Regions from separate parts of the Homo sapiens genome. Here region 2 is linked to region 1. The links come from fine-mapping of genetic effects on gene expression. A gene starts in region 1. The other region holds a variant in brackets. All regions are shown on one strand. Distances are between the middles of the regions. Region 1 holds the start of SEPTIN11 (septin 11). Region 2 holds the start of LOC105377291 (a long non-coding RNA gene).

The links.
Region 2: its variant is fine-mapped to the expression of SEPTIN11 in whole blood (TOPMed, PIP 0.92).

What each region holds. Positions count from the first base shown.
Region 1 is chr4:76,942,467-76,958,831 of GRCh38, reverse strand. SEPTIN11 (septin 11) reads right to left here and starts at 9,080. Exons shown (of 10, transcript NM_018243.4): 1 at 8,902-9,080. The coding sequence starts at 8,928. It overlaps LOC105377294 (a long non-coding RNA gene), which reads left to right and starts at 9,267. Exons shown (of 3, transcript XR_001741739.2): 1 at 9,267-9,869. It also overlaps the pseudogene TXNP6. RefSeq lists silencers at 8,786-9,095, 9,126-9,305 and an enhancer at 10,216-10,295.
Region 2 is chr4:77,019,876-77,032,368 of GRCh38, reverse strand. SEPTIN11 (septin 11) reads right to left here. Exons shown (of 10, transcript NM_018243.4): 7 at 11,699-11,867; 8 at 3,608-3,740; 9 at 1,399-1,586. It overlaps LOC105377291 (a long non-coding RNA gene), which reads left to right and starts at 9,044. Exons shown (of 2, transcript XR_001741734.2): 1 at 9,044-10,110; 2 at 11,593-12,493. RefSeq lists enhancers at 6,288-6,367, 8,875-9,494. The variant C/T (reference allele first, on the strand shown) is at 8,351.

The DNA of each region.
Region 1 (16,365 bases):
GCCATTGACTATTTAAAACTTATTTTTTTTTAATTTACAAAAAACATAAAGTATGAAGATTATAAACCTAATTGCCATCTGGGTGACAATAAAACATTAATTCTAACAACAACAACAACAAAAACCGCGTCTTACAAATAGTAGTGAAAACCTGGTAAAAAGTCAGTTTGTTCTGAGTATTTTTTAAAACATCCAAAGTAGCTTAGTATATTACAAAATTAACATTCATACTCCCTTATTTGTATAAGGAAAAGACGAGCCCCACACTAGTAAACAAGGCGTTTTCATCTAGGTTTCCCCAAAATGCAAGGACTTGAGACAGGGACTTGCATGCATGTGAGTCCTGGGAAGTGACCCAGGGGAACAGAATGGGGGACAGGGAAAAGTGAAACAGGGGAAGAGGGAAGGCCACCCTAAGGGGACTGTAGAGTAATCACCCCTGAGGGCTGAGGCTGGGGCCCAGAGGGGAACTTCTAAGGAGCCAGGTCAATTGAGGAGCCATGTAGATCCACCATCTCAAGGGGGTTGCCCCCTGGGATGGCAACTCCTTTGGATGTCCAGAAGTGCACAAAGGTCAGAATAGCTAAGCAGAACCCAGGTGGCGATGGCAGAGAAGCCTGGGGCAGAAAGTGGACTTGCGAGGTCTACACCTACCGGGGGTTGACACAGCAACAGCCAGGTAGGCACACGTCTTAGACAATACGTCTTATCCAATTTATCTGAAGGGTGAATTTTCACTTATTGAGTCAAATGTTTATTGGTGGGGGGTATAGGACATATAGTCCTTTCCCTTAAGTCTGGCTATCTAGACTAAGAATGCAAGAATGTGGTCAAGGGCTAGTGGAACATATTGCTTATGGTAGGTAATAAGGTTTTTTTGTTTTGTGTTTTTATGTTCACAATTATATTTGACAGTCACTTTTTTTAAAAAAGGTAACTTAAGGAAAGGTGGGGTGGGGACTCCAGAGCACTATGTGGATGACACATAAGTGTTGCCAGCAATTCAAATAAATAAAAATCGCCAAAATTTTGGTGATTCATGGGTGGAGGCTTCATGGAGGGTATGCTTGATCCGTGCCTCTAAGGTGTGCTATGATTAGAAAATGGGAAGCCTGTGTGGTTCAGGTGTGCAAGAGAAGGGGCAATTGCTCAGTTCCCACTGGGGTGGGGTGGAGTGGAGTGGCAGTTCTGGTTTGAGCCCAGTCTTCAGTATAAAGCCATTACTATTTCAGCACCATTTTCCTCAGATAACCAACTTTTATTGAGGATGAATGTTCCAGGCAGCAGTGTAAGCACTGTGTGTGTACTAACTGGCTTAATCTGTAACTCTTTGAGGGAAGTACTGTTAGTGTTTTACAGATGAGGGAAGTAACTTGCCTAAGGACACAAAGCTTGTTAAATGGTAAAACCGATACTCTAGAACCGGAGCAACCTGGCTCCAGAGCCCACATTTTTCACCCAAACGCTATACACTATGGCCTCTCAGTAGAGAGAAAAACAGAGCAAGGGAAAGAAGGGTGCCATCTGATTCATCTGCATTTAGGGACATATGGCTGGGAAAGGTCCAAAGGGCCGAGGTCCCAAGGGAAATCATTCTGTCAAGCAGCTGGAAGTCCTAATGGCCTCAGAACCATTTCCCAGAGAGTACACTTCCACAGCTGAGGTCATCAGAGAGCAGCACAGAAGGCCTTTCAGAAGGTTACCACCCATGACTTACTTGATGGTGATGTCCCTGGAAGCTCATCACCAGTGAGTAGGAGAATTCACTCTGACTTCAATTCATTGTGGCTGCCTAACTCTTATCTCTCTCTGTCTCTGTCTCTGTCTCTCTCTCTCTCACACACACACACACACACACACACACACACATCATTCTACTATGCCCAGCTAGAATCAGAGCAGGCCAAATAGAGGGAGAAAAATCCTTACAGACAGGGATACAATTTTAAAAATAAAGACTTGGCTTCATAGTAGATTCCTTGACTAGGAATCTAGCCAACTGTTATTCAAAATATTCACTGCCCTCCCTAGAGGGGGATTTACTTCCCCAGCCCAAGGGTCTTTCAGAGCCACTCTTTACAGGAGGATTCTCTATCCTCATTCTTTTGAATTTAGGAATGACCATTTACTTTGGCCAATACAATCTGCATGGAAGTGACCCATCTAAGAGCTTGAGAAGCCAGCTCTTGAGAAGCCAGGGTTCAGCATGTCTCTTTGTCCTCTGCCACCAGGCTGGCAATGCCCAGATAGAGGATACTCCCTCAGCCTGGGTCCTGGAGGCAATGCAGTATGCAGCAGACCTCCGAGGGTGGAACAGCTGCATGAGAAATAAACCCTTGCTATGTAAGCCACCAAAACATGGGGCCAATTTGTTACCGCAACATAATTTAGCTTAACTGACTGAATCAGATGGGAGGTCTGTATGCATGTTGGTCTAAAAGCCTTTGGTTCCAAAGCCTAGCTCTCCCACAAATTTGCTGTAGCAGATTAACTGACAACTTCTTCCTGTCTCATTTTCCTTCTCTATATTACTTCTCAGGTATTTTGTGAGTATAAGGTGAGATAATTGTCTTGACAGTAATTTGAATTGAATAAATTTGAAAATCAAGATGCTGAACAAGCTTCCCGTGCACAGAAGTTTTTGGTCAAGCCTTTTGCCCTCCAACAGCAGGTCAGAGTAAGTTTAATGAGTACCTTAATGAGATTCACAAAATTTATACTGGTATGAAGACAGTACTCAAAGAGATGAGATAACTAAAACAGCATGAAGTCTTAAGTAAACCCTGGCTTTTAACAGACTCTTCTCCTGTTTTCATAAAATCCAATGAGTTTTTAATTTCCTTTTTGGAGAACACTGATTGCCACTTGAAGTCCAAGGTGGAAAGAGTCCTACCATCTTCCCCCCCAGCCCCACCACACTCTTCAGGACTCAGTTGCTTAGGTCTAAGAAAATAATAACTTCTAGTTCTGAATCCTGAGGAAAGGCTCAATGCATAAAACTGGGCAGAGGAAGATCTAGCATTGTCGTTGTCATATGTTGTCACTGGACTCTCCTTCTCTGTGTCCTCTGTCAGTCTTCATTTCCTCTATTCTTTAAGGGTTCAATTTGGGCATGAAAGGAATCAACTCCCCTGATCGTTTCTCAACTCTCCTATTGAATCCTGAAGAATTAGTAGTCTGCAGATTTTCTTTGTCTTCCTTCAACCAATTTCAAGGATCTGAGATATCTTAAGTTATGGGCAAAGGGTGGATGGAATATAAAGCATTTAAAGAGCTACACAGTAAATACATGCCTATAAAGAATGCACTGCACAACTGAGTCTCTTCCCACCTCCTCAGCCTCTTGTCTGTCCACTCTCCCTACCCAACCCTAAGGCTGACGTTCCTGCTACATTGGATTTCTTAAGAGTCTCTCCCTCACTTCCAGAGCTTGGCACATGCTGTTTCCTGGGCTTGGAACACTTCCACAACCACCTCCCCATCTCCCTTTCCTTGCTAAATCCTATTGCTTACTCAGCCTATAGAGAGATTTCATGAGAGCAGCAAAGACTGCAGTCAAGTACTCACCAACATAATTTCAGCACCTGCATATAGAAGGTACACAAGAAATGTCTGATAAAACAGGTGGGTTGGAAAGGCAAGAATGAGTACTGATGTGTTAGGGTGTTGAGGATTATTTTGTTTTTCAATCTCTAACCTATCCACATTATTGTGCCTCAACTTCTATAAGAGAAAAAAAATCAATTCTTCCCAAAGGAATGTTATTATCAAAAACAAGTAGGTAAATTTTAATGTTATGCTATATATATTTTCATTTCCTTTTTGTACAATAAAAATGCAAAAAAAAATAAATAAATAAATAAAAAAGAAATCACACACAGACAAGAACAAACAAAGCTCCCACTTGTCAGAAAAATGGTCCTTTTAGAATATGGTCTCTTTCCCACCTCACCACCTCAGCCTACCCCTCTCTCAATGTTTCACACTCCATCCTACCCAGTCACAGTTCAGCAGGTGGGCAGAATGTGTCCACAGAACTGGACTTCCTGTGCCATTTGGCTTGAGCGATGTGCTCACACTCATTGGCGTCGATCCTAAAAAGAGGTGGCTCTGGTGCCTTGGCTTTGTCATATCAGGGAACAGACTCCTGATTTCTATCTCAGGTCAAGCCTGGAACAATGTGAATTTCATTTTAGATCGCCCAGCAAATTCCTTTTAGAAGTCTGTCTCTATTACCTTAGCCCAAGTATTGTTTTTATGTTCAACAGCTGCTGCATTGATGGGCTGCCAGCAGGCATGAGTGGGTCAGGGGAAGTATTGTTATTTGAGAGTTTTCTGTCAATCCAGATTTTTAAAAAGGGGGCGGGGGAGGTTATCAATTATATTGTAAAGTAGATCTCCTTGGAAAAAAGTATAGAAGCTTTAGATGTGTTGGGTTTCATTTAAATAATGGTTCAGCTTTGCTAACCCCATTTGAGACAGGTCTAGCTAAGACTATGAAAGATGGATCCCAATAAAATGATAAAATCCAAGAGCAGCGTCTATCCCCAACCAAATTTAGAGTCCTATAAAGAGAAACACAGGCACAGAAAACTCTGTGGGCTGCGCCACAGTCTAAATCCGATGATCATGATCAGTGTGACATCATCATTGGGTAGAATATAAACACTTGGTCTGCTGGCAATCAATCAAGTAGGCCATCCAAATCAAGGAAACAGCAGAGTCCCACAATCATTTGTTCCTTTTGCAGACATAGGATGGCCCATGCCCAAACACTAAGCATCCACTTCCTTCATTTTAAGAGTATTATTCAAATGGTCACACAGGACTCATTCAGGCACACAGTTTGGTTTCTAGGTGGCAGTTTATACAAGATGGGTTATGTCTGCTCAAAAAAGTGGTGAAATAGACTAAACACCTAAGAACTATTATATCAGGATAGTGGGTTATGGGCAGTTTTGTTCTTTTAATCAATTCCTTGGGTCTCCTTTTCACTGTAATGTAGACACATCATTTTTAAAGATGATAATTTAAAAGATAAATTAATCTATAACTTTCGAAAGATTTTAAAAGGAGAGATTATTGTACCTCAGAAACTTCTTGCATTCCTTAATAACTGCTTATAGAGCCTCAGTATGTATAATTTATATCACTGACTAAAAAGTTCTAATTTTTGAAAACTGACCTGAGATGACAGTCCCTTTATTGTTTAGGTGGCCCTCCCCTGGACCTTTCTTGGCTCCATTCATGTTTCTCCAGGCACACCGACCACAGCCATCCATCTGGGGCCACATTTTCAAGTCACAAAAATGGCAATTTTATAACAAGGGAAAGTAACATTTTATTGGCAGTACTCCTCCACTTCCCACACTCCCTGCCCTCATCTTTAAGAATTGCCTATAATTATCCCCAGACAGATATGATCCTTCACCTGAATCATATTTGCTGAGTCAGCAATAGGCATATAATTCCTTTTCTCCCTAAATGATTTACACATTTACACTGAAGTCTGTCACTTTAATACACCAAATCTCTCAAACAATAAAGCTCCTGGTAAGAAGAAAACTTGTCCACTGCTATATCCCCAACACCTAGAACAAGTTCCTGACACATAGCAGGTGCTTAATAAATGGTGTTAAATGAGCAAATGGAAACTTGGTTTTCCATTTCCTTCAGCTCAACAGATAAAACAGCAATTAAGTGCATTTCTTGAAGGATATCATAGGGAAATCTCCACCACCAGTGAAGTTTAAACACATATTTTTTGTTAGGGATAAAGTAAGAAATATTTCTGCACTGGGGAGCAGGCTAACCCAAATGACCTCTAACGTTCCTTTCAACTCCTAGAGTTTTTAAACTGATGAACACCACAGCTTAGGAGAGGCCATCAGCTACATAAAGCCTGATTCCCAAGTAGAGTAAATTGCCATGTTCTGTTTAAAATAAAGATAATAGCTGCCCCGGGATTTGGACGCAAAAATGCTAATTCATCCAAAATGCAGACACATCCCTTGGGAGTAAAATGTTCTTGCTAATCATCAGTTATACTAGGCAAACAGCAGATGTGCTTCAGGGTCTTCTTAGGGCTAAGCCCAAAAACCATCAGTGGGGAAATGGAGAAGCTAGGGATCAAAATTAAAACTGAAATAAACAGTATCACACTAAATTGAAGCTTTGTTTTGCAGTCAACAACAAATCCACTTAAGAAACTTACCTGAATTTAGCCTTGAGGTTTGAATGGTTTGTAACAGAATATAACCATTTCATAAGATAGAAAATAGTGCATTTGACATGTAAGCATTTTTGCCCACTAAAATGTCATATTTACCTGGGATATCACACTCAGATGTTCCCATTCAAGAATATCAAAAATTTAGGGTAAGTTATTCAGATTGCATTTTTCTTCAGTCTGGCGGGGAGAGGTAGTTATCGCAAAAGGAGATATATGTCCTAAATAACTTTTTAAAAAATCTAATTAAATACCTAGGGAAATTCCATTCACACATAAATCAACTTCGGAGTGGTTCTTTTCCCTCAGCGCACCCTTCCTTTCTTTTGGTGAAATCACAGACTAGATAAGAAATGGGAGGGCCAGAGAACTCTTAACTTTAAAGGTGCAGTGTAGATTCCATGGAGCTGTGTCTCAAGAGTCTTCCCCATTCATTGACTTTGTTTTAAAGCCATAACTGCAGAGACCACACTTAAGACAATAGCCCAATGAACAAAGTGAAAGGATTCAACAATTATCTGTGAAATGTGATCACATATTTTCTGTAGACTTTCTAACTTTATAGTCAATTCCTAATCACTCGTACATTAGGTTTCCAAAAGAAAAGTCTTCTGTCTTTAGATTGTAATTTAATTTTAATTCCAGTGACAACAGAGTGCGCAGAAAGAAGTCACTTCCTCTGTGCACGTATACTTAAAAAAAATCTCCTCTATTATCTGAAGAGGGAGGTCTAACATAAGAATTCTGTGGGATTAAGCTCACATATGGTTGGCCGACTTGGTGTTGGATGTGATTACGGCCACACAACTAAACCTTAAATCCACATACTGTTCCTATTTAACTGACATATATGAACTAATTTATAGAAAATGTGCAGCTAATTATTTCTTCCACCTCCTCCATCCCTCAAGAATGCACCAGCAATAATACGTGTTACTGAAAAAGCCAAACACCCCCACTGAATATTTGCAATCCTAAACGTTTGCCAATTTATCTAAAGCAGATATTGTTATTTTAGTTCTCTGAATCTATGCCTGCTAATAAGTATAATGGGGGGCAGGGGGAGGAGTAATTTAACCAGATAAATTTCACCTCTATAGACCTCAATTTTCTCACCAAAAATAAAACGACTAGCCCAGAGACTATGCAAATTCCCTCAGTAACAATAACCTACATGTGACCACTAATTATCAAGAGCACAATTTATGTGCAAAAGAAGACCAGAATTCTTAAAAGAGCCATGTCATTAAATCGTAGAGTTGAAAAGGCCTAAAAGACAGTCATGATTCGATATGACCGCTGTGTTTTCTGACTGCAGAAAACGTCTTTGAAAGCACCGCGGGCAGCCGAACCACCAAATCGAATTAGAATCCGCAAAGGGACCCATGAACTTCTCCCGAGGGGGTAGGGTGCAAAAGGCGCGCGTATCTGGGGAGGAGTTAGGCGGGGAGAGGGGGAAGAGCCGGGAGCCTGAGAGCACAGCCTTGCATTTCTGGGATTTCCGAGCTTCCAGTATCTCAGTAAGTCTTTCGTCTGTAACTACAAAATCTCCCGAGCCACCACCTGCAGCTGCACAGCTGTGGGAAAGGGAAGAAGAAAAAGGGAAGAGGAGGTGATAGACAGGGAAAGACATCGCCCGAGGCGCCCCCAAAGCCAGTAAGGCGAGTGGACTGTGAACATCGACGATGAAAAGGGGAAAGGGAAAACAGGAGGACTCCGCCTTTCCCACCCAGCTCCGCTCCTTTCAAAAAAAAGGAAAGGCCGCCGCCGCCCCTTCCTCCGCCTTTCACTTGGGGATGCGGAGCGGCCACTGAACCGCACCCTCGGAGTCCCGCTCCCCTCCGGCCCGGCCCCGGGGCGCGGACCGAGTCTTGCAACCCAGTAGGCGCGGCGCCTTGGCCCACACACTCGGGGCAAAGGTATCTCCTCCCTCCTACTCTCCTCCCTCCCGCCGTGGGGCACTCGATTCTTCACGCACCCGCCCGCCCTTCCTCTTCCTCGCGTCCCAGCCTCCTCAGCCCGCCGCCCCCGGCCTTTCAGCCGCAGAACATTTCAGTCCTTCCACCCACACCACAAGGGAGCCTCCAGAAAACTTTGTGTGTGTTATCTGGGGCTTTGTCCACATCCTGGGCAGGGCCCGCTCAGCCGGGTGGATGCCCGAGGGTGTCCGGGATCTCACAATGCGCTGGGGAGGCCACCACGGAAATCCCACCCCTCTGACCTGCTTCTACAGCAGTGCCACACGCAGCACTTCAGCTCGCAATTCCCATGCCCTGAGCGCCCCCTCGGCGCGGGGGAGACTGGAGGAAAGCCCCGAACCCGGCGCCCTTCTGGCTGTCACGAGGGAAGAGGTGCGCGGGCAGAGGGAGGCGGCTGAGACACGCCGCGCCTCAAAGAATTATTTTAAAGGGAACAGGAGAGGGGTCCTTTTTCTTTCGCATTCCCAGAAGAGGGGCGCGACGAGGCGATCCACTGTTGCATCACGTAACTGAGCCCCTGGGCTCCTAACCCCGACCCCAGACGCGCGCCCAAATTCGTGCACACACCCACAGCCGTCGCCGCCGCCGCGGGGCCGAGCACCCGCCCGGCTCCCCTGTGGTCCTCACCGCACCCGCCCCAGAGCAGAGACCACCCGGCGCCCGAGGAGCAGCAGGCGAGGCCCCAGCACTCACAGACGGTCTCCCCACGGCCACGGCCATCGCAGCTGCGGCACCGGCTCCGGCTGCGCCCGGGTGCTTTACGCCGACTCCGGCTGCTGCTAGTGCTCGGGCTCCGGCTCGCCTCCCTCGCGCCTCCCTCGCGGCTGCGCTCTGCTCGCCGGCGTCCCGCTGGCAGCCAGCGGCATCTGCTCCCCCCACGCCGCCGCCCCTCCCGCTTTATTAGAGCAACATGGCCACCCGCCTGGAAGGGACCATTCGCTTCCCCAGGAAGGGGTGTGAGCCTGCGCGCCCGGCCGCGGTGGTGGGCGGGAGGATGGTGGGCGGGCTCCGAGCCCAGCTCCACTGGCCCCGGCCGCGGGGCTCGCCCCTCCGTCCCCAAACGACCGTCTCCGCTGCCATGAGATGCCGACAGCCTGTGCGCTGGCCGCCACCCCCTGCTCCATCAGGTGCTGGAATCTGAGTAAAAGCCTGGGCGCGAGCTCCCAGCCCCGGGGCCTGCCACCGGCTCCACGAAGCGGGCAGCTCCAGCGGCCGCCGGGAGAAGGAAGGGCGACCGGGGGAGACGGGTCGCAGGGACAGCACGTGGCGGAAAGTTAGCCCCGGACTAGCACGCCCCACCCGGAGAAGCCGGCCTGGAAGGGGCTGCGGACCACCAGGCGGAGCGGTGGGCGACCGAAGTGCGGCTGGGCTGGCCTCCTCGTCTCCGCACTGGAAGAATTGCCCTTCCGCAAGTCTTCCCTTCCCACATGGGGGCCCTCCAGGCCGCACCTCGGTCGCCCACCGCTTCCCTTGAGAAGGGAGACTAAAGACAGGCATCTGGAAGCTGTCACTGTGGCGCGCGGGCAGACAGGGGATCCCATTGGAGAGGAAGAGCCGTAGTAGTCGCTGCTGCCTTCGGCCGACCCAACGGCCGCCTGCTTGGGAGGAAGAAAAAGAACGCCCCCGCTGAAGAATTAAGGCAGCCATTGGTTGCTCTAGGGGTAAGGACCGAGGCCTCCCCTGGGTGTCACTGGAGCAGCCACACGTGGGGGATCAGCCGACTTCATTCGATCGCTGGCGACAGACCCGGCGACCCGTAGGAATGCGCGCTGGGGCTGCGGCTGGAGGGCGTGGCGACGGCAACAGGCGGGTGGCTCGAGTGGGTGCGACTCTGGGCGCGTGGGACTGAGAACTCCTCCGCCGTGGGGAAGATTTTTTTCCCAGCAGATGTTGGGGTGTTACTGCGTGTCTGAGGGGCCGGCGGAATGGAGGGGTCCCGGTGCGTGCAGGGCAGCGAGGTGTGTCAGATGAGCTGTGGATCCCTGCGGCCCCACGTGGGCCGGAGAGGGGGGCCCACGACAACAAGCGATTGAGGACAGCGATGGACAGGGCGGGGAACCAGCTGGGTGGAAGCACAGGGAGTGTGGTGAGGAGGGAAGGGCTGTGATCTGCCCTCGGTACGACGCCCCAAGGGACAGCCTGGCCTCCTGAATTAGGGAAAAGACAACCGGTCTCTTTAGACGGGCGCCTCAGAGTCTGACCTGAGTCTTCAAACGCCCAGATCCCCTGGGGCCTTGAGTCTCCCTGTCCCGCTGGCCCTGCCTCGCCTGCGCTTCAGGACTCCGACGCCCCCGCAGCCTTGGGCTAAGGGTCAGTCGTCCCCGGGCGCGGGTCCGGCTGCCCTGGAACTGATGCTGGATTTCGCTGGTAGGTGGGCTAGGGGCTTGGTCACCCCGTCTGAATTCCACTGTCAGGACAGCTGTGGAACCGCCAGAGAAAAGTCTGGCCATGAAAGAAAGGTGAGGGGCGCCGACGCAGAGCTTATTTATTCAGTCTGTGGGCGGACTCAGACGTGCAGAGCACCAACCTCTTCAATTTCTGCCCTCTAGACTCCAAATCTTTTGAAATTAGGGACCACCATTTTATGCCAAACATACAGTAGGCGCTCAATAAGTGTTGAATTAAGATTACACATAAATGGGCCGGGCGCGGTGGCTCACGCCTGTAATCCCAGCACCTTGGGAGGCTGAGGTGGGCCAACATGGTGAAACCTTGGCTCTAAAAAAATGCAAAAATTAGCCAGGCATGGTGGCGCTTGCCTGTAGTCCCAGCTACTATAGAGGCTGAGGTGGGAGAGTCGCTTGAACTCTGGAGGCGGAGGTTGCAGTGAGCCGAGATCGCGCCACTACACTCCAGTCTGGGTGACGCAGTGAGACCCTGTCTCAAAAAATATATAATAATAAGATTACACACAGATGGGTGCTGTGCAAAGGGAGGGGGAAGACAAATACTTTCTTCTGCAGCTCTGGTACATGGACATTTTGTCCTTTCTCCATAAGGAGGATCAGACAGCAGCAGCACTGCCCATGGACCAGAGGCCTCATGTAAGGCCTGGGAAAAGAGGGCTCCACACACCACCAACCGGATGTAAGGGCAGTTGCAAAGGAACTGTGTTATCTTGACCAGAACAGACTGTAGAATTTGTTTATCAAATTTTTTTTTTTTACTTATTTATTTTGTGAATGTATATGCTGTAAACTCATCTGCTTAGATTGTAAGAATGTGAATGCCCTACCTTGGTGGGTAGGTTAGTTTATTCTAATCAGCAAAACTTAACGTTACATATTCCAACATCTCATTTGGGATGTGAAGATGCTATGGGGAGGGTGGGTATCCTGGCATTGCTAGAATGTTGGAGCCTTAGCGAGAGAGTGGCAGAGTGGGGAGAACCTGGCACTTCAGCTACAGATGATCACTTATGAGCTTTGTTATATCAAATAAGTTAAACTTTCATCTCATTTTTTTTTTTTCTATTGTAAAATAGGGTAGTAACAGTGAGTCCTGGGGGAGGACGTGTTCTGTTAGCCAGATCCACTCTCCAACCTGCTGTCTGTCCTTTGGAGCCTTAACTCAAGAGACTTTCTTTCCCTCTAGCTTCCAGTTGAGTGAAGGCACTAGGAAGCAACAGCGATGGAACAAAGAGGAAGGAGTATGGTTATTTATTCCCCCCTGGCTCCCTTACTATGGCACCATTGCAGGCTGGTTGCCTCCCTCAACCAAAGGAAGCAGCCAGTATCCCTCCCTAGGGTGACCCAGAGTAAACCCCTATGGTTTCCCTTCATTTTGCACATACCTTTGCAGATAGTCTTTTTATAAAACTCTACTCACATTATCCAGTAGGAATGAACATCTCATTCCTTCACAGAATTGTTTTGAGAGTTAACTGAGAAAATACTGTATTATTATTATTAGAATGACCTATAATTTCTGTCCAAACTGAGAAACTTTTGAGGCTGGGAAAAGGGGGTTTGTGCTGATAGTAATGATGTCAGGACAATAGGAAAAACAAGGACTTATGGCCACCCCAGCTATTATTGCCAGTAAACTCTGCTTTAGACATATTAAGCAATCAAGAAGTGGTCGTACTATCACGCTTCTGTCACTAGACTATGAATGTCTCAAGGTAAGAGTGCTTTTTTGTCTATTAGCTTCTGTCACATGGTCTGGTATATTCAATAAATTTTGAGTTGGAGATGAGGGTAAAGACTAGGAAATGAATAATTTTTATTGCCATACTAAGGTAATGAAGAGTCAAGGAGGTCTTTAAGCAAAGAAAATTTGCATTTTAGAAAACAGCTATAGTGAATATTTGGCATTGTTAGTAATTTAGGGTCTATTCCCTTTTTAATTGAACCCCAATTTATTTGGAGAGCTTTTCCAATGAATGTTTCAACTTGGTAAAAAGTAAATGCCTCTTAAAAAAGAGGTTCTGGGCCAGGCGTACTGGTTCATGCCTTGTAATCCCAGCACTTTGGGAGGCCAAGGCGGGCAGATCACCTGAGGTCAAGAGTTCGAGACCAGCCTGGCCAACATGGCGAAACCCCACCTCTACTAAAAATACAAAAATTAGTGGGATGTGCTGGTGCATGCCTGTAATCCCAACTACTCGGGAGGCTGAGGCAGGAGAATAGCTTGAACTCACAAGGTGGAGGTTGCAGTGAGCCGAGATCGCACCAGTACACTTCAGCCTGGCTGACACAGCCAGACTCCATCTCAAAACAAAACCAAAAAAAGAGGTTCCTCGCTGGCTGTGGTAGCATGGTGTAGTCCCAGCTACTCAAGAGGCTGAGGCAGGAAGATCACTTAAAGCCAGGAGTTTAAGGCTGTAGTGCGTTATGATTGAGCCTGTGAACAGCCACCGTACTCCAACCTGGGCAACATAGCAAGATCTCACGTCCAAAAAAATTAATTTAATTTATTTTCAATAAGAGGCTCCTGAAGAGACGTTCCATCACACCCTTCCTTTCATCACCACAGTACATACATTCTTAAGAAAGTATGTGATCTAAGCTTGGCCAATTAGATGCTGTTACATTTGAATTTTGAATCAAGAGACACAAAGACAATACAAATTGTTACAGTTTATGCAGGCCATAAATTATTTTTTACTTTTTGGCAAATTGTTACAGTTTATGGGGTCTACAATTTATTTTTTTATTTTCTGGCTTAAGTTATCTAGGATTTGTTTCTGTGGTTTACAGTCAAAGAACCCAAAGACCAGATCACTCTTGACTACCATAAAAATGATTAATTATAAAGGGATACAAGAAAAACAGGAGGCTGGGCACAGTGTCTCATGGCTGTAATCCCAGCACTTTGGGAGGCCAAGGTGGGTGGATCACTTGAGGTCAGAAGTTCGAGACCAGCCTGGCCAACATGGTGAAACCCCATCTCTACTAAAAATACAAAAGTTAGCCGGGCGTGATGGTGGGCGCCTGTAATCCCAGCTACTTGGGAGGCTGAAGCTTGAGAATCACTTGAACCGGGGAGGCAGAGGTTACAGTGAGCCGAGATCGCACCGCTGCACTCCAGCCTGGGCAATAGAGCAAGACTGAGTCACAGAACAACAACAACAACAACAAACAAAAGCACACACACAAAACAGGTGATAAGTTAGCTATTGCCACTTTAATTTTGGATGGTTTAACTGACTGTCCTGAACTGACTGATCCTGAACTCCTTCTGCAACACAATATGTAAAAATGTTCATTAAAACATTGTAAAATGCATCTACATTTGAGAGGAAAAAGTAAAACTCTCTATTCACAGATAACACAAATATACAGAAAATCCTAAGGAATCCACTAAAAAATCATTAGAAGTAATAAATGAACTCAGCAAGTTTACAAGATACAGGATCCACTGAGATTCTGATAAACATGGAAGGCAAAAACATTGAAACCGTCATTTATAAACTCACATAGGCTCCAGTGATTATCTCTTCTTTTCTTTGTTAAAAAAATGCATTTAAAAATCATTCTAGAAAATTGTTAGGCAATGTTAAATTTACCAATAACTCTGACTCTTCTTTGCCCCTACCACTTTTTATTATCTTTGAAAATCAAGACAATATTTGCCCTTCTTCAATCTTTTATCATTTCTTATTTTTCTCTGGCTTCTGGAAAGTGAGTAATTACCTTTACGATCACTTATGAAATCTCTTGCATGGATAATTCATTTAGGCCTAGAAACTCATTTAAAGCAATCGATTGCTTGCTTACCATGCTGGATTTTAGTAGCCTTTAAATCATGTTTATTCTACCTTTTTTCATTAAAACATTAGTCTCTTTGGGAGAGGAGACAAATAAATTAAAACTTGAGTTTTACCTTTTCTTTGTCATCTGATAGCATTATGTCATCAGCACGAAGCAGTAGCTTCCATCCTTTCTTGTTCACCCTCTTGTGGCAAGTATTACTTGAAAAACAAAAAAATAAATTTAAAAAAAGTCTTTGTATTCTTTTTAAAGGCAAAAATTATCTAAGCCTGCAGGGACATTTCCATTCTTATAGGCTATGGTACTCTTTAAAGCACGCTGTTTAAAAAATCTGATTGCAATAAGTATGTCCTGTGAAGTGACATGCTCCTTAGAGTAAGATGACTTGGCTTGCTGGCCACTCTGTTTGGCAGCCAGCCCTGGAGCTGGGTCAGTTTCCCCTGGCTCTGGCATCACTCCTTCTCAGATAATTCCTTTCTCCCTGTGGCCAGTCATTGTGGTGACAGTTATTATTCTTTTTCATGAGCCTAGAAAATTTATGTGGTGGATGTCCCTCTGAATACTAGATACTGCCACTGAATTAGAAGAGAATCATATGCACTTGTATATTCTGACAGCCATGTCACTTACACCTTCTCACCTTTTGTCTCGTCCTATTTGCTATCTACCATTCTACCACTGTCCATTTCTACCAGCTGAATAACTCTCTGATGCAGGGGTTACTCTGCACCCTCATCTCCCTTACTGTAGACTTGTTCCTTTTGAATGAGATAAAATTTCCTTGACTTATAATATTTCAGTCATAATTTCCTTGCTACCTCATGTACCGATACCTATTGGATTATGTTCATTTTGTTAATTTTCCCAAGTTCAATTTGCTTTACCACTAATTCTCTCTTTCCAGGCTGAGATTTCAAAAGTCATCAGCATTATATTTCACCTTACTTCTGTCTGTTTTATTGAGTCCCATCTGAATCAGCAGAAGTGGCTGTAGGTTGGCTGGTATCATGAATTTTGGCAGATTATGCTTCATGAGTCATCATTCCACACTTTAGGAAGATAACGAACTAGCCGTTGCAAGACTGCCTTCCTACTCATCAGCAGAGAAAACATGGACTTGGAAGCCAGGACACTTGCGTTCGTGTTCCTACACTGTCAAACATCATGAGCTATGCAAAATTTTTAAGTTGATGTATTTGGATATAGGCGAAGCTGCTGTAATGGGAATATCCCAAGAGTCATTGGTTAAAGAAAAATAGATGGTTTTTTGTTTGTTTGTTTTTGAGACAGTCTTGCTCTGTCACCCAGGCTGGAGTGCAGTGGTGCGATCTCAGCTCATTGTAAACTCCACCTCCTGGGTTCAAGTGATTCTCCTGCCCCGGTCTCCCAAATAGCTGGGACTACAGGTGCAAGCCACCATGCACGGCTAATTTTTGTGTATTTCTAGTAGAGATGAGATTTCACCATGTTGGCCAGACTGGTCTCAAACTCCTGACCTCAGGTGATCTACCTGCCTCGGCCTCCCAAAATGCTGGGATTACAGATGTGGGCCACCGCACCCAGCCTAGATGTTTATTTCCGATTGTTACCTTATCTACTCTGATCAAAACAGTCTCACCAGCACCATATCCACATTCTAGCCCATGGAAAGGGTAAAGAAAAGAAAGTGGAAGATATTAGTTTCCATTTAAGGAAGTGACATGGAAATAATATAAGTCACCTGTGTTCACATTCCACTGGCAAAAATTCAGTCACAGGAATGTACTTAGCTGCAGAGGAGGCTAGGATATGCCCTCCAAAAACTCAGGGGGGATGTCCTACTTGTAAAAGGAAGAAATGAAAAATGGACACTGAGAGGAAATCAGCAGTCTCAGAGGTAATATACTTACACAGTTTTTTAAAAAACATAAAATGATGCAGAATGAAGTTTCCACTCTATTCA
Region 2 (12,493 bases), 75 kb before region 1:
GTTACTCTCAGAATTAATCCAGCATAACTAAATTTTGGGCCTTGAACTCCTTTGGTCACTTGGATCTGTGCCAACTCCAAATAAAATCACAACCATTTCAATTATTGTTCAGAACATTTGCCTCCTCCCTTGCTCTGGTGATACATTTTCTGCTGTCTCAGAGCTCAGAATGTCAGTTTGTAAAGCATGATTTAAAACTCTCTCAGTATGTCATTGTAGCAGTCCATTTTTATTTTTACTGCAGGCAACATGAGATTCCTTAGGGGTGAGCCTACTGCACATTCACCAAGACTAAGTGGACAATAGCACTGTGCTCACTTTTCCCTATAACACATCTCAATTATTGTGCAGAGACTTGATCCTATGTACTCTATGTTTAAAGAATGTAATTCTTTATGTGCTTGAGCATCAATGTTTTTACATATGGTCAGCTTTTTCCCTAGAACCTTGGCATGTAAGGCGAAAGAGCAACACTTCCTGAAACAAGTTCTGAGTTGCTTTATATTAAATAGCTGCCCTAAAGCACCGTACATTAGACAAAGGAGGGTGGCATCTGCATATTTGTCATTGAGACACCACAAAGGTTTTCGTTAGTGGTATTCTTACCATCGTGCTTCCTGTCAAAACCGATAGCATTGACATAAAACTAGGCTTTATGATGATTCAAAGGAGAGCTTCAAATCACAGGAGAATGTCAAGGGAGGCCTAAATCTCCCACTGGTTTCAGGCAGCTGCTACTGGAGTATCACAGGAAGTGACCAACTCAAGAGCAGAATCTGACCCTTTGGCACATGACATTAAGACCCTATTTAAAAAAAACCTTTTATGAATGGGTTTAGGTTTGGCTTGAGGTTGGCAGAGGTGTCAACTGGATAGGCATTTGGATCCCATTTCACAATAAAACAATTCATCATATTGAATTTTGAGGAAACTAGTGGCCACTAGCAGCTCTTCCAAATGTTTCATTTTGGGAACGAGAATTTCAGTGACTGGCTTACGAAGTCTTACAACACAGAATAGGAAAATAATTTTAACAATTGTGATTTTAGGATGCTCTCTATCAAGAGTCATGAGAATTGTCTTCAGAGGGTGCTGAAGAGACATCAACCTGTCTTCTTTGAGACTCCTAGTGTTGGTGTGGAAGATGCTACTGGAGACAACAGGTTCCTCCAGGCCTGATTGCTTGGTCAATTGTGGTAAAGTTTTATAAATTAATCTTTGTGTACCTTTTAAAAAAATTTAAAAACCTTCATCATCTTCCCTGCACTGTAGAGAAAATACTTGCTTTTATCTTTCTGGTAAAGGACCAGTTTCCAGTCTGTAAATGGGAAAAGTAGAGACATGCAAGAGGAATAAATTGTTAGAGGTCCCCGATACAGGGGGGTGACACCTGCTTACTTTTTCTTATCCTTGTCTTTCTTGGTTTGCTGGGCCCCAGATTGCTGGGCCTGGGACTGTAGTAACTGAGCCGCTGCTTTCTTCTTCTGGAAGTTGTTCACCTCCTCCTCAAGCTCCTTCTTCTTGTCTTCCACTTTCTTCTTTTCTTCTTGGTGTGTCCGCTTTAGAAGGTCAAACTTCTCGTGAAGCTGGAGAGAAAAAGAAAACAGGCTTGGTGAATGGAATGAAAATCCTTTTGATGTAAAGTTCTTTGGATCTGTTCAAAAAACAAAACATGGCCAGGCACGGTGGCTCACGCCTGTAATTTCAGCACTTTGGGAGGCCGAGGTGGGTGGATCACGAGGTCAGGAGTTCAAGACCAGCCTGGCCAAGATGGTGAAACCCCATCTCTACTAAAAATACAAAAATTAGCCAGGCGTGGTGGCGGGTGCCTGTAATCCCTGCTACTCAAGAGGCTGAGGCAGAGAATTGCTTGAACCTGGGAGGCGGAGGTTGCAGTGAGCTGAGATCGTACCACTGCACTCCAGCCTGGGTGACAGAGACTCCGTCTCAAAAGAAAATAAAAGAAAACAAACAAATATGTGTCATGTGGCTGCACTGGCTTTAATACAGGTGTAAAGTACCATTTTGCTGACTTCCTGGAGGAGCTGAGCTGGGATGCTGAAGAGCATCCCTCAGAGTCCCAGACTCCTGTGACACTAGAACTCCTTGGGACTAAAAATTCCTTCGCTCTGTTGCCCAGGCTGGAGAGTAGTGACACAATCTCAGCTCACTGCAACCTCTGTCTCCTGGGTTCAAGCAATTCTCCTGCTTCAGCCTCTCGAGTAGCTGGGATTATGGGCATGCGCCACCACACCCAGCTAATTTTTGTATCTTTAGTAGAGACGGGGTTTCACCATTTGCCCAGGCTGGTCTCGAACTCCTGACCTCGTGATCCTCCCACCTTGGCATCCCAAGGTGCTGGGATTACAGGCGTGAACCACTGCACCTGGCCAAAAATAATTATGATCCCAACAAAAAACTCACCCTAGTGGTAAAAGTGGTTCTTTACCTCTGGTCCTTTTTCGAAATGTATAAAAAACATTTACTTAGAAATATATACAATGACTACATATATGTATGTGTTTGTATATATATACACATATATATGTGTATGTATATATGTGTGTATATGTGTGTGTATATATATGTGTGTGTGTGTGTATATATATATATATGCATTATGTATTAGCTACTTAAATAATGTGTTGGGAAATTTCTGGCCCTTGAGGGAAGGAAGGGGAAGAAGAAAAGCAAAGGAAGAAGAAAGAAAATGAAAAAGAAAAGGAAAGGAAGGAATTCTAGACAATTTTAGATTTTTTACCCAGCATCCCCTTGGTTCTTGAAGCCAACAGCAAATAAGGCTCAACTTTCTCTGCAGCAAAACCATCTTGAGTGCTTAGCTATTTAAATAGCCTCTAAATTTCAGTAGTTTTTAGACAAAATAAATTAAAACAAGAAAACGAGGAAATTTATTTAAATGATTTCACTTAGAAACATATAGAGACATTGGTCAAACACTTCAGATACTCATTATTGACCAGCAGAAATAGACATTATGCACACAAGCACACATACACACACACACACACACACTCAAATACAATGGGATGAATGTTATAGTATAAATCTATGTTAACTTCTAGGAAGCAGTTAATCTGGCCAGGGGAGGGGACTAAGGTAAGGCTGAAGCAGGGAGTGCAAGCCCCGTGAGGGCAGAAGCACGGGCGCAGATGTGGAGTGCAGGCTTTGTGTCAGATCGTTGTCCCCCAGACACTGCCAAAGTCTAGCTGAGTTGGCTGATAGACTAAGAAGATAATAATAGTCGCAGAATCCCAAATCTCATGTTTTAAGACTTGTAAATTGAAGAAACACAGAGCTACACAGGCCATGTGATCAGATCTGGAGACCTAAGATCTAGTTTTAGTCTCGGTTTTGCTGCTAACTAGGTATGTGACTGCAAAAATAGTTTTAACTTTTATAACCTGTTTATCATCTGTAAGACAGGGATGAGAATATCTGACCCATTTTCCTGGCCAGGTTGGCAGGTCACTCGTGACAAAATGCATGTAGAAAGTACTTGGACCATCATGAAGTCCTCTAAAGCGTGATGTATTTAGAAAATCTCTCTCTTACAAATCTTTCCCTTGAAGCAGGACAGATGGCTTACCTCTTTCTCTGCCTCCTTAAGTTCAGCTTCTTTCTCCTTCACTCTCATAACAAACATTTGTCTCATTTCTTCTTCTTTCTTCTGCAGTTCTCCCAGGAATTCATTCCTTTTTGCTTCATATGTCTCCTGAAGACTATTGAAAATCCACAAACGAAGGACAGCATCATGAAATTGTATACTAAGAAATTTCAGTTCACATAATTTCTACCTATCTACTTTCAAAACATAGATAAAGCTGCTGCTTGCCAGATCAAAGCATAAGTAGAATGACACTGTTTTGCTTTTAGTTATGCTGTGGTTGGAAAGACAAGTGCATCAAGAACTAGAAATCAGTCAGTAAGCACAACACAGCACTAAAGGTGTGTCTGTGACTAGCCAAGTTTTATCTTACATATATTCATACAAGGAAAACCTGGGCTGAGGAGGTGGAGGTGGTATAGAATTTGAGAAGATGGAGAAGGCCTGCTATAGGGGGAGAAATGAAGAGGGACTGGAGTCCCACAGATCCGGATTGGAATTTGGGCCATACTAAGTAACCGGCTGTTCTTAGAAAAGCACAGCCTCCCTCAGCCTCCAAGGTCTAAGACGTGGATACAGTGACACTTACCTTCTAGGGATATGACCCTGAGAATGAAATGAGGGGAAGGGAATAAAACATCGAACATATAGTCAGTGCCCAGTAAATGGTACCCTCCCCTCTCATCTCCCTCCAGCCCCCAATGTGGAAAATAGACCCAGCAAGTAAACTAAAGAGACAACATTACCTTTAAAGGTACTGTAGAAAATTGCTACTTTTCAAGTATATTACCAGTTGTAAACAGAGCAGGGAGAAGTTTAATTTTTATTTTCAATTCTATCCTCCTCCTGACTGTCTTGGAAGTTAGAGCCCAATATTCTACATTGAATGCTACAGCTCAGCTTTATCTCTAAGTCAAAACAAATATATTTACAGAGAAATCACTTTGGTAACACAGCTTAAGAAAATACACCCCCACTGCAACCCCCACATACACACAGAAACATTTGCTGATATTTTATAAAGTGCTATTTCTCTCTTTGTCTTGTAGTTTCCCTACAACAATTGTTGTATATTAACCATCTGCAGTATATCTGCCTTTCCCATGGACTAAATTCATCCAAAGTGTAGACTACAAACTGGATAGCCACTCTGCACGATCCCTGGCACCATGCAGACCACCACATATCATTTACATCTGTCCATTTACATGAAGAAAAAGGAAATTCAGGTGATAGGAGCATACGTGCATGTAGATACACACATCTATAATGAACCACACAACCAGTTTAGTATTAGAAAATGTATTAGGCCAAGCATGGTGGTTCACACCTGTAATCCCAGCACTTTGGGAGGCCGAGGCAGGAGGATCACCTGAGGTCAAGAGTTCGAGACCAGCCTGGCCAATATGGTGAAACTCCATCTCTACTAAAAATACAAAAATTAGCTGGATGTGGTGATGAGCACCTGTAATCCCAGCTACTTGGGAGGCTGGGGCAGGAGGATCACTTGAACCCAGGAATTGGAGGTTGCAGTGAGCTGAGACCATGCCATTGCACTCCAGCCTGGGCAACAGAGCAAGACTCCATCTCGAAAAAAGAAAACATATTAATCAGGCTGGTTTATACTTCAATAATTAACACGGTTATTAGTTTATTAAAAGTAAGTTCTCTTGCCCTTGCCACTATCAATAGTACCTGTTTATGAACAATCAAGTGTTTTGAGTTTCCAGAGGTACATTTCGCTTTCACATTATCTTATAAGATAAAAACATGCTTGGCCAATGTTAGTGTTGGCTAATATTAATAGCAATAGTTGGACTTCAAGTTTAAGATCTATAGCAATGGAGATATAGAGAAGTGTACTCATAACAGAACTATAAAATAATTCATGAAATTTTGCATATTAGCTTATAATAAACTCTTGATCACTATTATTTAGGTCAGAATTGCCAAAGGTAGAGGATGACTCGTCCCTCTTATGAAATTTTACAGAAAACTCAGTTTTTGTTGATTTTAGAATAATGAATATATCTCCCTCTTCTTTCTAACAAACAATGGAAACTTTGATAGAAACACCACCGAAAGTGTATTCCAGAGACCACCAATTTCAAGAAAGGATCTCCAAAAGAGGGGCTCCAACGTCAAAAGACGGAAGGGAGAATGGTGCCCCTGATATCCTTTTAGCAGATTCACAGTGCATGGTGGATCTCAACCTTGGCCATACAGCAGGGGCACTAGGCACATTTTGTTGCATACACTTCCCTAAATACAGAGTCCGAAGTTCAGTCCTGGAGAGGCTGATTCAGGATGTCTGGTAAGGCAAAATGGTCTAGTTTTAAATGCTTCCCAGGTCATTTGATGCAACTAGTTTGCTAGTTTTAAATGCTTCCCATGTGATTTGATATAACTAGTTTGCTAACTACTGCTTGTCTTAAATGCTCTGAGTAGCCCTTCAGTAAAAGAATCTATTCAACTTGATTGTCTTAGAATCCTCCAAATTTGTCTGATCATGGAAAATTTAGGCAGTTCACTGATAGAATGTGCTCTGGGTAATGCTACCCTAAATGCTGAGAACTCACTAAATGACTCTGCCTTATCCAGTCCCAACCACAAGCCATCTTATGAAACTATGAATCACAACTCAGTTGTGGGTCTTAACCAGTACGTTAAAAAGTTTAAGAGTAGGCATTACTACACAAAATGTGTATGCTGGATCATGATGGAAAATGCTTTTTATAGTGAAACCTGCAGTCCAAAATTGGAAAGCCTAGTCCCAGAGAAAGCCTAAGGAGCAACTTTGCCATTGGCAAGATTAGCTTCAGACATGAGTCTGGAAGCAGTTTTGACACCCTGGGCCAGAGCAGGCAAATGGGCTCAACAAATGCTACTTCTTATATCATTGTGTCTTAGGATGTGAGCCAGCTTTTGAACTCTGACATTGGAAACAATGATCAGGAACATAAGACAGAAGCCATAAAACCTTACCCCAAGGAATCATAACTGTAATTAGTTACTTACAAATAACTTAGAACCATAGCATCCACAGAATCAGATTCCCAGCCCCTCTGCCAGTTGAGTTGTCCACTAGAGATACCACAAGCCCTCACTAATATTTCCAGTCATTGAAGACCAGTTCAGAAGGAACTGGCTCATATTCAGTAAAGATATCCAAAGTGATTTTACATCTTTTTTTTTTTTTGAGACAGGTTCCTACTGTCTCACCCAGGCTGGAGTGCAGGAGCAGGATCATAGCTCACCATACGCTCGAACTCCTGGGCTCAAGCGATCTTCCCACTTCAGCTTTTCGAGTAGTTGGGACCAAACACAAGCATGTGCCACCATGCCCAGCTAATTTTTTTTAAAATTTTTTGTTGAGATGAAGTCTCCCTATGTTGCCCAGGCTGGTCTTAAATTCCTGAGCTCAGGTGATCCTCCTACCTCAGCCTCCCGGAGTGCTGGGATTTCAGGTGTGAGCCACTGCATGCATCCCTTTAGTGGTATCTTTTGCAACTTTTAGTTCTTCAAACTTAATTTTTAATTACAGTTATTAATACCCTTTTCTAAGTGAGAAATGTGTACCTTTTTCACAAGATTTTAGATTGATTTGAAATTGAGGATTTTATCTTATAATTTCCTCTTAACAGCCCTTGGGAGAGGCAGGTTTTGCTTGTTGAAGTCAAAGGAAGAGAGAACGAACACAGACACTTCAGTTCATCCTTCATTCTGGTGATTCACACAGCACGATTCTCTCTCTGTTCTTATCTAAAAGCATCTAGTGGAGGGCAGGCCAGAGTATGATCATCTCCACCAGCTTTTGTGGAGTGGAGCAATACACATGTGAATTCATTTAATCCTTACAACAACCCAATAAGGTAGCCATTACTATCACCTCCCACTTTATAGATGGGGAAACTTGGACACACAGGTAATTTGACCAGGTCACACCACAAAGAAGTAACAGAGCCAGGACTGAGACCAGGCTGCCTTGCTCAGATAAGAACTCCATCTCCTGCACTGCATGGCTGGTGTACAGAGGCCCAGGCACTCCTAAAAACAAGTGAGTCTCTGGGGCCTGGACCTCGTTGGCCTCTGAGAAAATGGTGGTAACTGAGTGCTTCGTGTGAGTTGAACGGGGGTGAAGCAAGGAGACGGTGGTGTTCTGAGGTGAGATGGGAGCAGCTTGGGCAGGTACTGTTAGGAAAAGCGCTGTGGCCTCTCAGGAGAAAGGAAGCAGGGAGTGGCTCATGGGAGACACGTGACGTCTCCTCTTCTACCCTATAATGCCAGCCAGAAAGGGGCTGGGGTCTGGAGGAAGGAGACGCCTGGGTCCAGGGAAGCATGGGTGCTCTGGGTGGTAGACGCATGAGTTTCAAGGCTTCAGGGCAGCAGCCGGGCATGCACAGGGGGCGGATAAAGATGGGCTTGGGAAAGAGCAGATGAATGTCTGGTTATATACATATTCTGCCACAAGACAATAAAGACGCAAGTGTGAATGCAGGCGGGTTTAAAGGCACCCCAGGGACGGGCTCCGCTAGCTTTACTGCCGTGGTGTGCTGCCAAGGCTTGAATACGGCGTTTCTGTGCGCGCGCTACTCCTCCTTTTGCCTCACACTGTGTAACATACACAGTGGCACTGCCTCTTACTAGACTTGGTGTTAGAGGTCACTCTCTGTTTTACAAACATGTACTGTAAACACAAGTGGGGCCCAGAGGACAAAAGGTGAA[C/T]GAGGGTGCTCACTGGGAAGGATGAACTTCACTGCACACCCATGCAGAAATCCTGTGCTTTGAGAATATAATAAAACCTTAAGCCCTTGATTTATACTCCTCCAAGCTCAGCCTAAATTCACACGGAAGATCCATCTTCCAAGCACATCCAGGAATGGTGACTTTGCAGATGAAATTCTGGAAAATCACTTCAATCAACTGTGGCTTCTGCTTTTCCTTAACTCTGTCATCCTTCAAACAGAGTCACCTCACTCCATTCCTCCCGCTCAGGTGCACAGGAAGTGCTGAGGGTGCCCGAAATTCTTCAAAGGGAAAGGCCGAGCCCTTTTAAAAGTAGTGGTTTCCAAGAAAAGGAAAATCAAATTCATTTCTTATCACTATTTACCAAGACATGTGATTCAAAGCCAACTTTTGGTACCAAGTAATCTTCCCTAAACCAGGAGGGACATCAGAGTTTGAATGAGTGGTCTAAGAGGAGAAATTGTTTCCAGTTGAAATGGAAAACCTGGTTCCAGTTATCGAGATGTTGGAAGGTATTTATTTTTAGAAGGTCCACTTTTTTCTAATTTTCTTATATATGGAAAAAAGTAAAGGCCTTGGTAATATATATGTGTGTGTATATATATTATATGTGTATATATTATATATTATTATATAATTATATCATATATTAGTAATATATGATATAATTAATATATATTATTTTATATATATATTGTGTGTGTGTGTGTGTGTGTGTGTGTGTGTGTATACATTTTCCCTTTTCATCATCAAAAGCAAAACTCAGGCCAGGGGAAATGGATCCAAGTGGGGAGGGGAGACATGGATAAAGCATGCTCTCTAAGCGTCAGGCAGCCTCGGTGATATCCCTCACCAATCCTGAAGCCCCTGAAACAGGGAGAACAAAGCAGTGGGCTTGCCCAGCAGCTGTCCCTTGCAGAAGCCCTGCTGGGCCTACCCAGCTCCACCTCCTCCTGGTGGGCAGTTACTCTGGGCTTGCAGGAAATGCCTTAATTAAAATGCTGGCCACACAGACAACTTAGCAGGCTGTGCGTCTGCAGCAGCAGGAAATCCTCACAATCCCCAGGCTCCCAGGGATCCTAAGGAACCCAGTCAAGATGGTGGAAAGACCTAAGTGGCAAACTTAGGCCACTGGGCCCTTCCTGGTGGTGTAGATAGCTAAGGATAGCATCATAGACTCTTCAAATTCCACAGATTCCTGAGTTGAAAGAAACACAACTATGCCAAATGGCTCTGAACATTTTGAGAAGTAAAACACTTTGGGAGGTAAATGACCTCTAACAAACTCAAGAAGCAGTCACATGCATTCTAACTTTTGCAGGCAGTTCACAGGCTCCAAGTTATGATCTCGTCTAGGGGTTGGGAAACTACAGCCTGAGGACCAAATCTGGCCCCCCATCTGTTTTTGTAAATGAAGTTTTACCGGAACACAGCCATGCCCATTCATTTACAGTATGGTCTATGGCTGCTTTCGGACGACAAGGGCAGAACTGAATAGTTGTGACAGAGACCGTTTGGCCTGCAGAACCTAAAATATTTACTGTCTAACCCAGTATGGAAAAAAATTTTTTTTTACTGGATCTAATTATTCCCTGATCTGGATCAGCTCCTCATTTCACAGATGAAGAAACTCAGGCCCAGATGGGTTAAGAACTTGTAGCGTAGCAGGACCAAGAACTGAACCCAAACTCCTGACTCCTAGCCCAGTGCTCTTCAACACTGTCTGGATTTGAATGAAGGTGAGGGGAAAATGAATTCAATTTTATGGCAGTTCCTTTTGTTCCATATCTCTTTGCATGAAAACAAATATTTTATGTAATACTGAAGACGGCCTTTCCCACACAGAAACCATTTCATCAGGTTTAGTAACCATAAAGTGGACTTGATTTTGTAAGGATTATTTTCTGGTAAATGCATTTCAAGGTTCAATTAGCTAAACCTGTGTACACAAAAAGGTGTCCTACACCTCGCCTCAGAACATGACTTTCACATGGTTGGAGATGGTCAGTTTTGCAAGCCGTCAGGGCAGAAGTGAATGATGCAATCTTGGCTAGAAGTTAACTTCTTGGTATGCCCCTTGTCTGGGTTCTGCATTTGTTCTCACTGCATACACACATGCTCATGGAACTCCTCAGCAGCACAGTGCCAGGCGACAAGCCCAGGCATTCCTAAACTATCTCTAAAGCAATTGCAAGAAAATAAACTCCCTCCTACAGACCCACGGGGACAGAATCTGCTGTGCACAGGCTGCCTCCGGTTCTATTGTCAGCCAGCTTGTAGACATCAGAGTGTGTTGTAGGCCAAAGAGGAGAAAGACAGGTTTTTTTTCCCCAAGGAACTATGGCCCTCAGTTTGTAAAGGCACAGAGCCCAGACACACCTCACACCACCTGAATTCAAATCCCCATTAAGAAACAGCTTGGGGGCCAGGCGCGGTGGCTCACGCCTGTAATCCCAGCACTTTGGGAGGCCGAGGCACTCCAGCCTGGTGACAGAGCAAGGCTCCGTCTCAAACAAAAAAAAAGAAAGAAAACTGCTTGGGCACCATCTGGACAATCCTCTCCTCGACCAGGAGGTGGTGAACCTGGCCTGGCAGCCTCACCCCACAACTTTACCCAGAACCACCCCATGACTCACTACGGTGTGGGCAACAGCACCCCAGCCTTGCCAGCCCTATCCCTACCACTGGATTCTGACGGGGTCTGGGCTTCGGCTAGGATATTAATTCTACATCCATTTCTCCCCTTCACATTTTGCGTCTCCACCCGTCAGTGATATAAGAAAATACATAGATCTCCTAAAAGCTATTCTCCTTTCCTCCTGATTCTTTGTTGTTAGAATTTTACCGAACCACTGAAAGCTAATAGTAAAAGTGCTTGACAAAGGAAGAGCCTCCGGAAGTTAAAGGTGTTTGGCAAAAATGAATGGGGCAAACTGTAATCAGCAGCCGCACCTTTGTAAATATATCGACCAGGCTCTGCACCTCTGCAAGAGAACTGGCAGAAACCTGGGCTCAGGACCCAGATGGCAAGAGCTCAACACCACACCATTGTTTACTACTTGGAGGACCTTGGGCAGTTTGTTTACACTTTCAGTGCCTTTGTTTCCTCATCTGTAAAATGTGGATAATAATGACATCAACTAGGTAAGTTAGTTGAGATAATGCAAATAAAGCAATTATCACAATGCCTGACAACATATGTATTAATCTTCACCCACCAGATCCTTCCATCATCACCATCTCAATCCAGCAAGCATTTCTGTGATGTACCACCATGCCACTCTCGCCACTGTCTGGGAGACACCTGATTGCTAGATGCCTTCATACCTGAAGGGTTTGCTGTCAGGGTCAGTGTCCTTGAACCCCATCTCTTCAAGCTTACAGCGTCGGTACAATTCATAGTGGCGGGTGTGAGTCTGCTCTCGCAAGTCCTCCATGTTCACGCGGATCAGCATCTCTCGAAGTTTCACAAAATCGCAATGATTTTCATTCTCAACTACAAGAGAGGGGGGAAATGGCGGAAGTGGGATTAGCAATGATGTCACTGAAATATCTGCAGTGATGCTTCCAAGATGTTATTACCATCACTCCTGAAATCTCTGGGGTCTCAAGACCATCTGAAGATCCTTTACTGGATTCACCTTACATTCCTGACGAAGACAAGATTTCTGACAACATTGACCATAATACTGATGACAACGCTGACTGCTGAGTGCCTACTCAGCACAGAGCACAGAGGGAGGAGCTTGAAAACAAATATTGTCTTTACCCTTCATAATAACTCTGCCAACTAGATGTCATGACTCTTGCTTTGCAGACGCAGGAGCTTGGTGAGCAAGCTGACCTCCCAAAGAGAGGTAGCAGGGTCTAGATTCAAATGCCAGAACATCTGGCCCAAAGCCAGATGTATTTGTACCACTCCATGCTGTCTATAACTGTGCAGGGCCACTTTTACATACCACTTCATTTAATTTTATCAACAACACTAGGAAGAAAGGAGTTTTCTTATTGTAGAGAAATTAGTAAGAGTAAGAAAAATTGTATTTTTCCCAGGGATCTCAAAGGTACTGTTTCTTCTCACAGCTTTATTGCCTTTATTCAAAACAGAGGAAAAGGAGGTCT